Regions from separate parts of the Homo sapiens genome. Here all the other regions are reported to be linked to region 1. The links are microRNA targets in miRTarBase. Many come from high-throughput screens and were not tested one by one. Region 1 holds a microRNA gene; each other region holds the end of a gene's coding sequence.

Evidence for each region. Region 1 holds the annotated microRNA hsa-miR-130b-3p (CAGUGCAAUGAUGAAAGGGCAU, at 2,293-2,314, opposite strand). A microRNA usually pairs through its seed, bases 2 to 8, with sites in the 3' UTR of a target mRNA and lowers its output. Matches are read on the target gene's strand: a 7mer-m8 pairs with bases 2 to 8, a 7mer-A1 pairs with bases 2 to 7 and ends in A, and an 8mer does both.
Region 2: the mRNA of ABCD2 is a reported target of hsa-miR-130b-3p. The part of its 3' UTR that is shown has no 7-base or 8-base seed match.
Region 3: the mRNA of ATP6V0D1 is a reported target of hsa-miR-130b-3p. Seed matches in the 3' UTR shown: 7mer-m8 at 517-523.

What each region holds. Positions count from the first base shown.
Region 1 is chr22:21,651,521-21,655,667 of GRCh38, reverse strand. MIR130B (microRNA 130b) reads right to left here and starts at 2,364; the gene lies at 2,283-2,364. It overlaps MIR301B (microRNA 301b), which reads right to left and starts at 2,687; the gene lies at 2,610-2,687. It also overlaps the pseudogene LOC107985532. RefSeq lists enhancers at 2,974-3,023, 2,560-3,231, 3,232-3,902.
Region 2 is chr12:39,550,499-39,554,498 of GRCh38, forward strand. It overlaps ABCD2 (ATP binding cassette subfamily D member 2), which reads right to left. Exons shown (of 10, transcript NM_005164.4): 10 at 1-3,633. The coding sequence ends at 3,414. Among named protein-coding and RNA genes, the nearest start is that of ABCD2, 67 kb to the right of the region's middle.
Region 3 is chr16:67,435,022-67,439,021 of GRCh38, reverse strand. It overlaps ATP6V0D1 (ATPase H+ transporting V0 subunit d1), which reads left to right. Exons shown (of 8, transcript NM_004691.5): 6 at 1-51; 7 at 152-229; 8 at 333-1,003. The coding sequence ends at 494. It overlaps HSD11B2 (hydroxysteroid 11-beta dehydrogenase 2), which reads right to left. Exons shown (of 5, transcript NM_000196.4): 2 at 3,182-3,394; 3 at 2,880-3,065; 4 at 2,636-2,773; 5 at 1,469-2,434. The coding sequence ends at 2,019. Among named protein-coding and RNA genes, the nearest start is that of HSD11B2, 5.9 kb to the right of the region's middle. RefSeq lists an enhancer at 3,035-3,536.

The DNA of each region.
Region 1 (4,147 bases):
GGGTTATTGGGCCCCTCCTCTTTGTCAGACACTGCCAAGAGATTTTTTTTTTTTTTTTTGAGACGGAGTTTCCCTCTTGTTGCCTAGGCTGGAGTGCAATGGCGCAATCTCAGCTCACCGCAACCTCTCCCTCCTGGATTCAAGTGATTCTCCTGCCTCAGCCTCCTGAGTAGCTGGGATTACAGGCATGCGCCACCATACCTGGCTAATTTTGTATATTTATTTTTTATATTTTCAAGAGGGAGTCTTGCCCTGTTGTCCAGGTTGGAGTGCAGTGGCGCGATCTTGGCTCACTGCAACCTCTGCCTTCCGGGTTCAAGCAGTTCTCTGCCTCAGCCTCCCTAGTAGCTGGGATTACAGGTGCCCACCACCACACCCGGCTAATTTTTGTGTGTGTGTGTGTGTGTTTTTAGTAGAGATGGGGTTTCACCATCTTGGCCAGGCTGGTCTTGAACTCCTGACCTTGGACCCACCTGTCTCAGCCTCCCAAAGTGATGGGATTACAGGCGTGAGCCACTGCGCCCAGCCTAATTTTGTATATTTAGTAGAGATGGGGTTTCTCCATGTTGGTCAGGCTGGTCTCAAACTCCCGAACTTAGGTGATCCACCTGCCTCGGCCTCCCAAAGTGCTGGGATTACAGGCATGAGCCACTGCGCCTGGCCAGAGATTTTTTAAATGACAGTTGTCTCTGCCTCAGGGGCTCCCAGTCTAATGGACACTTCTGCCACAGGGAGAACATTTTGATTTAGGCCGGGTGCGGTGGCTCATGCCTGTAATCCCAGCACTTTGGGAGGCCCAGAAGGGCAGATCATGAGGTCAGGAGTTCGAGACTAGCCTGGCCAACATAGTGAATCCCCGTTTCTACTAAAAATACAAAAATTACTGGGTGTGGTAGCACCTGTAGTCCCAGCTATTCGGGAGGCCGAGGCAGGAGAATCGCTTAAACCCGGGAGGCGGAGTTTGCAGTGAGCCAAGATCGTGCCACTGCACTCCAGCCTGGGCGACAGAGCAAGACTCCATCTAAAAAAAAAAAAATTTGATTTAACAAGCTGTTCTGGAGGAATATTCAATGCTGTGAAGCCCAGAGAAGGCTTCCATTGGGAGGGAGCCAGTGAGCAGAGCCCTGAGTTCAGTCTCCCCGCAGCAAGAGCAGGAGACAGCTGCATGGGGGTCTCCAGCCAGTGGGTACAGAATCTGTACAGGACTGAGGGGTGGCCACCTCCAGCCATGGCCCCTGGTGCCTAGAGGAAGGGAGGATGGATCTAAGTCAGATGACCCTAGGATCAAGGAACCCCAAGGGATCAGGACTAGGAAGCCAAGGAGCATGTGTCATTGCCCCTGTTCCTCCCACGGGTGCCAGGGCTTCTCTCCCCAGGGTAGGGGTAAAGCAGTTTCCCAATGCGCCCAGCTAGGGATGAGGGGAACTCCCAAAAGCCCATCTGGAAACCTAGTCCTCCTCTAAAGAAGATTTGAATGACTGTGACTGGGCACGTAGAAACCTTTTGCACCGTGTCAGGTCTTGATGGTAGAGGTGGTCATCCAAGCATGCCTGGGGTCAGGCTCCTTGGAAGTTCAGCTCCAACCCTGTATTCCAGCTGGGACGGTTGGAATGTTAGACACCTCAGTCCCTCCTGCAGGTTCAGGGCACACCTCTCTGTAAGAGAACAAACTGGCATGGTTGGTAGACATCATTTGCAGGCTTTGTATCCCAAGTCCACCCATCCATCTCACATAGTACCACTCCAGCTGAGTCCACTCAACTGATCAGTCAACTGGTCAGTCCATAGTACCACTCCAGCTGACGTCCTGGGGTGAAGGCTGCCTCCTGAAAGGCCTGCCTTACCCCCTTACCCAACTGCCACCCAGAAGAACATTCTCTCCAGAGCCTGGCCCTGTTCAAGCTTCCAGCAAGGACTGGGCCCAAGCCAGGCCTAGAATGATCTTCCATGCAAAAGACTGGGCGTGTATTTCCCCTAAGACCCTGACCAGGCCTGGAGTTCCAGTCTTACCCCAGGGACCCAATGTGGAAAGACCTTCAAACAAGAGCTTTTCAGAAGCTGGGGAGGTCTGCTCCTGCACCTGTCCAGCCATGACAGGATGGAGAGTTTAGGGATGATTCTCCAGCTCTGCACCCACCTGATCCTCTGATGGAGGGTCCAGTCCAGCTTCACATCTGTGCCTAATCAGTGGAAACACTTACCCTCTGGGCACCTCAACCTTCTCAACTGGAAAGTGGAGTGAGGCAGCAAGCTCCCTTTCCCCCTCCCAGGGTAGCAGGCTGGACCTGACCGATGCCCTTTCATCATTGCACTGCTTCCCAGCGGCCTATAGTAGTGCAACAGGGAAAGAGTGTCGGGCAGGCCTGCCAGTGCCTCCCCCAGGGTGGTCTGCAGGGATCTGAGACCTGGAATGCAGGCTGGCTGGGGCGGGGCCTCTGCCCGGGGGGAAAGGGTGCCCTCTGACCCCAGAGGCCCAGGCCTGTCTAGAATCTCAAGTTTCCATGGAGAAGGGAGCGAATTGGGTAGGGGGGAGGGGAGGGCCTGCAAGCCCAAGGGGCCCTGCCTGGGGAGTGGGAGGTGAGGGTTATAGGGAGGGAGATCCCCAAGGCTGGTCCCAGATGCTTTGACAATATCATTGCACTGCTTCTCAGAGCACAGTAGTGCAACCTCGTCAGAGCACCTGCGGCCAGCAGGGGGGACCCCACCACCCCCAATACACGCAGGGCGGGAAGCTCAACCATGGATGGGTGGGTGGGGCAGAGCCCCCGTCCAGTCCATCCGGGCAGGGAAGGAGACCGCAGCGGGGTGCGTCCCTGGGGTCTTCAGAACCCAGGACACCCAGGCCTTTCCCAGAACGCTCCGGATTGAGGTGGAGGAGAAACCCCAGACTAGGGGGTTGTTCCAATCCCGGAGCAGGAGCTGACGGGCCACGCAGGGGAGGGGGCGCACACACAAAGACGAACCCGCACTCAGCCGCAGTCCAAAGCCGGCTAGCGCCCGGAGCGGGGTGGGTACAGCCCGACGACCCTGCGCCCTGACTCGGCCCGCGGCTCCAGGAGAAAAAGGGCGGCCCCACCCCGGGACGACGCGCCCCTTCTAGCTGACGACTCCATCCCTGGCCCCTTGCCCTGCACTAGATACACTCTGGATTCTTTTCTAACATATTCTTCTGCCTGGAGGCCCAGAGTGGAGCAGAGGATGGGGGCTCCCCGCCCTTCTAGAGTTCCCTGCTCCAAAGAGGGCCCCCGGGATCCCGGCCGCGCCCCTCCGCCTGACCCGCCGAGTAGGGCCGCCCAGCCCAGCCCAGGATCCCCTCCTCAGACACAGCTGACTCACGCAGACATCCCTTCCGCCCAGGGCCCGGTCAGGACGCGGAGGGTTAGACGGAAGAGGATCCCGGCCATCGTCTGCCCCCGGGTCCCCGTCCAGACGACCCTGCACCTCGTGGCGGCCCCTCGCCTGCCGGCTCCATCTTTAACCCGCTGACAGTCGGAGGGGCCGGGCCCCCGACTCCTTAGCATAGCGCTGCGCTCATTGGCCGGCGCTGGCGCGGGGATTCGCCTCCTGCATGCCTGTTGGCTGAGACGGGAGAGATTTCAAAATAGCCTCCGGGTTCCGATTGGCCCGGCGCCGGCCGAGTCTCGGGCTCCGTGGTTTTAACAATGAGTTCTACAAACACTTTTTCCCCATTCATAACTTATCAAAAGGAACTTTGCCCGCCTTTTCTCAGCTCCAATCTCTGCGAGTTTTCTAGCGACACCGACAAGAGCGCTTGGAAGCCCGGTGAGGGGCGCCAGGCGCGAGCCCACAGTGGGGGAGGCCGAGACCCTGTGGAAATTCCCGAACCCCCGCCAAGCCTGCTGTGAACGCGGCCGCGGGCTGCTTTGTTATGCATGCTGAGGTTGCTCTCTGCGCCTCCTGGATGGGATATTTGGACGTGGTGGGCTTACAAACTGGGGTAGCCCCCCTCCCAACTCAACCACCCCGGATCGCCCGGCAGGACGCGAGTGAGGCTTTCCTGAAAACCCCCGGGTATGGCTGGGCTATGGAGACCGGGTCCTGGGCCCCGTGGTCTTTTGGATCTGTGGGAGATATGGGGAACGGAAGTGTAAGCTTTGGTTTCTTCGTGATTGTGATCCACTTTGCG
Region 2 (4,000 bases), not on the chromosome of region 1:
AAAATTTCACAATATGAAATGTAAACCAGCCCTGAACTTGGTAGTCAGGAAAAGCATCAACAATGAAGAAGAAATTGGTTTTTAAAAAAATATTTTATACATCCACCTGAAGGCGCTCATGTGGCAAAACATATTCAACCCCAAAACATATTCAACATATCTAAATGTATATAATCAGAACTGTAAATAGCCTAGGCTATGTGAAAGTACTTTTCACTTCTAAATGAGGACAATTTTGCCCATAAAGTAATTATATCAAAGTCATCTTTTTAAATCAATGATTTAATAACCTTTACCATCATTTTATGCATATATTAGAAGTGTGTAACATTCTCTGGACTTGGGTTTCAATGTGTAACAGATTTTCCTAGACTCATTGAATCAAAAAGCTATTCCAAACATATTAGAATAAGATGAATCTATTGCCAAATATGAAACTATACTTGGAACCAATGTTTCAAATAAAAACTAGGATATTCATTTATGCCTTTACTGACAGACCAAAACTTGAGACAAAAACCAAATTTCTATCAAGAGAAAACCATTCCCACTGTAAACAAATGTAAATTTGAGTTGAGTTTTAAGGTATATCATTCTTCTTGAGATTATTTCAGAGGGATTATTACACATTATCCTGCTTACAAGAACACAAACTGTTTTAGACTCATGCTTGGCATAACATTACATGCTGTAGAAATATAATGCAACGTTTTCATAGAATCCAACTTATTTTTCAAGTTTAAGAGTTAACCTAAAGAATGCACATTTTAAACTCAAGCTCCATAAACTTATAGCTTTTTGTTTGACCAAAAATATGTCAAACGTTTGGGCAAATAGATATAACATGGTAAAAGTAGTTTGAAACTTGAAATATTCTTTCTTTTTTCCTTTCCTCATCTATCCCTTGCTGTATTCAAAAATGGCTAGTTTCTCAGTCTTTTTCATGTTTTCCGTAAAATATAAGAGTAGTAAAATATGGTATACCCATTGGACCATTTGGAAACAATTGAATGGTACATAAATACAAGTTCAAATCAGAGATGTTTTCCCTTCCAAGTTAAGGATGTTGGTCCTGAAAAATAAATTCAGAAAACAAATAGGCACAAAAAGCTCATGGAAAACATGTGCATATTAGAACTTTAACATTTAAATTACAGTGTACATAGTTTTTAATACAGAATTTTAGGCATCTTTGAATCCTGTGCATCATAAATAATGAGTCTTTTTTGCTTTAGCTCATGGGTAAAATATATTAAATACTGACTAATTACAAATCTAATATTTGTTTTGGCATTCTTTTCAATGTTTCAAAACAAAATTATCAGGTTGTTTTAAAATTATGTTTTATTTTTATATTATGAAAATTAAGGCATGAAAATTATACACATCTTTCACATGAGGATTTTTCATTTTCTTCTTGTACCTTTAAAAGTTAACTTAAAACACTTGCCTCAGACTTTTGCCCTTGTAGCAGTATAAACTGGATAATCACTTATGTAGAAAAGATTAATGAATAATTTTTAGCAAGTTTAAGTTTTGGTTCCATGCTTCTTAAAAAAAAATCTTTAATTCCTGCCTCACTTTTCTAACAGGAAATATTAGTAACTGATGAATAAGTAGGTGATAATACTAATGAAAACGTTGGACAAATGTACTGATTATAATTTTATATTGCATTCCTTCATGTAAGTTGGTTACATTTATTGAAAATTAAAAATACACTAGCTATCATGGCAGAATTGAAAATGTAGAAATGTTATGATGTTCTATAACGATCATTATGAATGACTTCCAGGTACTCTATCACCTGAAAAGTCTAAGAATCACAGACTTAACATCTATTATGGCTGTGTCTCAACAGGCAAATAAAATCCTAGGCCACTAACAACTGATCATTCCAATATTCTTCTGGTATGTCAATGTGGTATCACAGGCAGCAAGAGATAAAGTTTCAGTCTTGGCTTTCCAGCTCCAGTGCACACAAATAGAATAAAATCTATTTCATATGACTAGTCCATATAGATTATTTCTCATTATGTTCAATAAATATTAACTTTACCAAAACCATAATTATTTGCCCTTCTCATTGCTAATGCCTTAGAGGTACATTAATATTGAGTAAGACTGCATAGTTGCTGAATGATTTACTAACTTTCTCATTTCATTTTAAGCCGCAGAACAATGATCTTTGCACTTTGTACTTAATTTTCATTTCTTGTAAACAATAACCAAATAACAATAAGACTAACATTATGAAATTTATTTTATTTTCTACACTTCGTCTAACTTTTATTGCTATTATAGCCCAGTTTGATTTAAAGGATAATAACAAAAGAGCACTAAACCAGAGAGTCAGGAGAACTTCATTTGATTTCTCGATCTTTCCTTAAGTAAAGTGCATGATTAGGGCAAGTCTGAGTGTCAATTTTCTCAAAAGCAAAGTAGGAAAAATAGTATTTGTTTCAAAACATTGTCATCAACATTAAGGTGAAATGATGTAAATGGGGATTGTAAATTATAAAGTACTATTCCAATGTATGTTATTACTATGATTCTCAGAATCCTTAAGTTCCTTTATACCATTGCAGTTCTTAAAATGTAGACTCATCCTTGGGCAAAAAAACAAGCTGTGTATTTCTGAACAGAAGTTGCAATAGGTAATTCTGCTAAGGAAATTATCAGGTTGAGACATTGTTTGGATACTCCTTTTCTGTATTGGCAATTCTCTTTTTAAAATGAAAGGATTTATTAAAAATATTTAAGATTTGTACTAAAATTAATTTGTTATATGCCCTCATTAAGATGCTTAAAGTCCAAAATTTAAAAATATGGCATTTTATACATTTTAGCCATGCTTTTTTCTTTCAACAAATGCCATTAAAACAATTTTTATATTGAAATTATTTATAAAACTGTCAGCTATTTTGTACAGGTTTAGTTGGCCACTAGCAATAATCAATTTGAATTCTAGCTATTAAACCTAATATCAACCATAAATGGACTAAATGTCACTCAAAGTTTGAATCTTATGCACTTGGTATCAACCCAAATGCTGCTCAGTTTAACTTGTTTCATTTCCAGAATATTGCCCATGTTTGTTAAGAACTTCAGACACACCACATATACATAGTAAATCTGGTATTCATCATGAATTCACCTAGAAAATCCTGTTTTACAAGTGCATTAGGCCTTCACTAGGAATTAGTATAAGTCATAATGACTGACCTTACATAATGCATTTGTTTATTTTCTTCTGAAAAGTCAGATCATATACTTCCTTAATGCTAAAATCTTATAAAACATGTCTTGCTGCCTTTTTTTCTCTGTGCTTAGCTTAACATACTTCATGCAGTATAACAGAATGTCTTTGAGCCTTTATCTAATAATTAACTTTTAAAATATGTCAAAACAAATTAAGATGTCTCATCTTCATTTTTAATTGTTTTCAGCACTGAGTCTTCTCCCAAAATTTTACATAGTTCATTGAGTCTCTGCTGCATTTTGGGAATTCCAGCTAGCTGAGATTCTAGCTTTTGTTTTTCTTCACTCAATGTCAAACGGATAGCAGTATCCAATTGTTCAAAGCGCCAACCTCCTTCACCATCAAACTGTAATAAATGTGTGTGGTATTTCCTGCATAATTAAAATGAAATAATATTATTAGCCATAATGTTGAAAAATCATTTTAGTTGTAGGTTTATCATTCAAATTGATACCCAAAGGCAAATTTTAAGTAGGTGCTATTTTACATTTGAGTTTTAAGGACATATCAAAAAGTTAAATACTGTGATTTTTTTAAAACCCAAAAGTCATTAATCTGATCTTTAGGAAAATATTATTATTTTTTTCATATTCTGGATGTATATTAACTGTAAAGGAAGACATGCTGTTGCATGTATTTAATTTCTTCATAACTCAATTTGGCTCCTGAATAAATAGTAAGGCATTCTTAGGATGGGAGTAAGGAAAGGAAGCTGAGGAAAGAAAATCAACATTAAAA
Region 3 (4,000 bases), not on the chromosome of region 1:
GCTCGGGCTGACGACTATGAACAGGTCAAGAACGTGGCCGATTACTACCCGGTGAGTGCCCCGGCTGGCAGGACAGCGGTTGGATGTGTTGTCACCAAGCACCCCCACCCAGAACCCTCATGCTTGTGCTTCCCCCCACCCCCCTGGCCAGGAGTACAAGCTGCTCTTCGAGGGTGCAGGTAGCAACCCTGGAGACAAGACGCTGGAGGACCGATTCTTTGAGCACGAGGTGAGTCTGCAGGGTCTGCTTGTCAGAGGGAGGCCAACCTGGTGGTTTAGACCTGACTCTGTGGCCATGGCCACCTGGACACCACATCTGCCCGTGTCCACAGGTAAAGCTGAACAAGTTGGCCTTCCTGAACCAGTTCCACTTTGGTGTCTTCTATGCCTTCGTGAAGCTCAAGGAGCAGGAGTGTCGCAACATCGTGTGGATCGCTGAATGTATCGCCCAGCGCCACCGCGCCAAAATCGACAACTACATCCCTATCTTCTAGCGTCCTGGCCCAAGGCTCTCAATTGCACTCTTTGTGTGTGTGTGTGTGTGTGTGCGCGTGTGTGTGCGTGTGTGTGTATGTGGTCTGTGACAAGCCTGTGGCTCACCTGCCTGTCCGGGGTGTAGTACGCTGTCCTAGCGGCTGCCCAGTTCTCCTGACCCTCTTAGAGACTGTTCTTAGGCCTGAAAAGGGGCTGGGCACCCCCCCCCACCAAGGATGGACGAAGACCCCCTCCAGAGCAAGGAGGCCCCCTCAGCCCTGTGGTTACAGCCGCTGATGTATCTAAGAAGCATGTCACTTTCATGTTCCTCCCTAACTCCCTGACCTGAGAACCCTGGGGCCTGGGGGCAGTTTGAGCCTCCTCTCCCTTCTGTGGGTCGCTCCCAGAGCCATGGCCCATGGGAAGGACAGAGTGTGTGTGTCCTTGGGGCCTGGGGGGATGTTGCTCCTCAGCTCCCTCCCTCAGCCCTGCCCCTCTGAGACAATAAAACTGCCCTCTCTAAGGCCAACTGTCTGCTGTCTCGTTTAGGCCCTGGTACCTCTCCATGACCCCTAACTTCCCTCGTGACCCCACCTTGCTAAGCAACCCTGCCTAAGCCTCCACCTCCCTCCCTCAGTCAGCAGCCGAGATTCTTCAGGGTTGGGGAGTCCCAGGGAGATAGCCCCTTCTTCTGCTGGAGGCTCAGATGCATACAGGCCTGGGGAGCTAGATGTTGGCCCTGGAGGCCCCCCTGGCCTCCCCAGTTGCTTCAAGCAATTGGGATCAGTGTCATTACCCCCATTTCACTATGAGGAAACCCATGGTCTGAAATGATTTGCCCCAGGTCAGTGGAGGAGGGGGAGGTGTGAACCAGAGTCTACCAGGGGAATCCCAGCCTCCACGCTGAGCCCCAGGAGTTGCCACCCTGTCACACGGCCACACTGTGTCACTCAGCCAGCCAGTCAGTGACCCCCTCCAAACAGCACCTGCCGCATTTTAGAAGAAATAAAAATTTGTCTTTATTTAAAATGTGGCAATTGGGAAGTACAGTACATGCTTCCCTGTGGCTTGGGGGTGTGTAGTTGGGGCCCTAATTCTTGAGCCAGTCAAGAGACACTTGGGATTTAGCCCTCAATTGCAGCACTGAGGCACTGGTGCCGAGAAACAATCCTGAGGGGGTCCCCAACCCACCTAGTCACTCCTTAGTTTGCAGAGGCACTATCTGCAGAGTCCTGTGAAAGGCTGCAGTGAAGTCTTGCATGAGACTCCCCATCCAGCGGAGTTCTCCAAGCTGCAGGGTAGAGCGTTGTGCCAGGAGGGTGTTTGGGCTCATGAAACAGTGGAGAGGCGCAGAGGCTCACTGGGAAACCTTGGCCTCACCGGGCCTGGATTGGGCATCGGCAGTGGGCATGAAGTGGGGGTGGGATTCTTTAGGCCAGGGTCCAGGACACTTGGGGGATCGTAATGCTGGGGGTTTTCGGGGAGGAACCAAGGGCTCACGGAGCCTCCTGTGCTGCAGTGGCTGGGCCATAGGTGCACATGGCTCACCGAGCCACTGCTGGGGAAGGGCCGGGGCTCAGGTTTGGGTCCTGGGCTGCGTCCTGTGGTGGGGTAGTGCCAGGCTGGCCAGGCTGCAGTGCTCGAGGCAGACAGTGACTGATGAAGAAGGCCTGCAGGAAGCGGCGCCGCAGGCCTTCAGGCAGGTAGTAGTGGATGAAGTACATGAGCCCCAGGCCCTGGCCGGGGTAATAGCGGCGGCGGGGCCGAGCTGCCAGCAGCGCATCTGTGATGGCATCTACAACTGGGGTGAGGTCGGACATGGCCAGGCGTAGCGAGTGCAGGAACTGCCCATGCAAGTGCTCGATGTAGTCCTTGCCGTAGGCCTGCAGCAGCTCTTGAGGCAGGTTGGCCAGCAGCAATTGCTTGCGCTTTTCCCACTGACCCACGTTTCTCACTGACTCTGGGGAAGGAGTGGCAAGGTCAGAGTGGGATCAGCTAGGGGAGCCAAAGCCAATTAGGACTGTTTAACCCGCGCCAGGTCTGCAGCCAAAACTACACCCCCAACCAAAACCATGACCATTCATCAAACCTGACCTGCCCCCATAAGACCATTCCCAGCCCCATTCCCCACCCCCACCCCACCCCCAGCCCTGATTCCCACCTGTCTTGAAGCAGCCAGGCTGGATGATGCTGACCTTGACCCCCCAGGGAAGGAGTTCACAGCTGAATGTGTCCATGAGTAGCGCCACGGCCGCTTTGGAGGTTCCATAGGCCCCCAAGCACGGATATGGCATGTCCCCTGCGGATGGATTGGGAGTGGGGCAGCTCAGCTTTGGCAAGGGGCTCCCTAAGCCCTCCCCCACCCCAGGGGGCTCCTTTTTGCTCCAGTGGGGGGGGGCACTCACCCGCTGGGCTCCCCACAGTCACGATGCGGCCCCTTGAGCTGCGCAGCAGGGGCAGGAGGCCCTTGGTCAGCTCGAGCGCGCCAAAGAAATTCACCTCCATGCAGCTACGGAAAGTGGCCACTGGAGACAGCTCCGCATCAGCAACTACTTCATTGTGGCCTGCGTTGTTGACGAGGCCCCACAGGCCTGGGGTCACAGAGCAGAGGAGGGAAGCCTTAGGTCAGCCCAGCAGCAAACTTCCAGTCCCCGTGTCCTTCCCACTCCCCTGCCACGCCCTTGCCTGGTGGACACTTGCCACTGACCGGTGCTGGTGGTGTGGGCCTTGGTGAACTCTAGCACGCGGCTAATGTCTCCTGGTTTGGTCAGGTCCATCTGCAGCAGCCTTAGGCGAGGGGAGCAGCAGGTACGCAGCTCGATGGCACCGGGGCTGTTCAACTCCAATACGGTGGCCAGCACCGTGAAGCCCATGGAGTCCAGTTTCTTGGCCGTCTCCTTGCCAAAACCAGAGTCACAGCCTGGCCAGGCCAGGGCAGTCAGTGAACTTCCACTGTGGCCCAGCCTAGCCTGAGACAACCCCAGAATCACCAGGGTCTGGATGGGATCCAGGCCCCTGCAAACCAAGCCACCAGCAGTCAACAACCCTAACTCCTTCCCTAGGCCCATCCCTGGCAGGCTGTGTCCCTCTAGCTGAGCCCTGGGCAGTAACTCTGTGACAGCTGTCATCTGCCTGACTCCCCGTGGCTACCCCACTAATGTGGCTTACAGAAGAGGAAACTAAGGCCTAGTAATGCTAAGTTGCTTCCCAAATTCACACAGGTCAGGTCTGGGACAGTCCCAGGCCCCAGTGTGGTTCTGCTTTCTTGATTTCAGGCCACAGCTCACAGGCACAGGCACAGTATTAGTAGGAGCCTCCCTTTCTCTTTTTTTTTTTTTTTTTTTTGAGACAGGGTCTCGCTCTGTTGCCCAGGCTGGAGTGCAGTGGCATGATCTTGGCTCACTGCAACCTCCCCTCCTGGGCCCAAGCATTCCTTCCTCCTCGGTCTCCTGAGTAGCTGGGACTACAGGCCTGTGTCACCACGCCTGGCTGGTTTTTTCTTTTTTTTTTTTTTTGTTTGAGACGG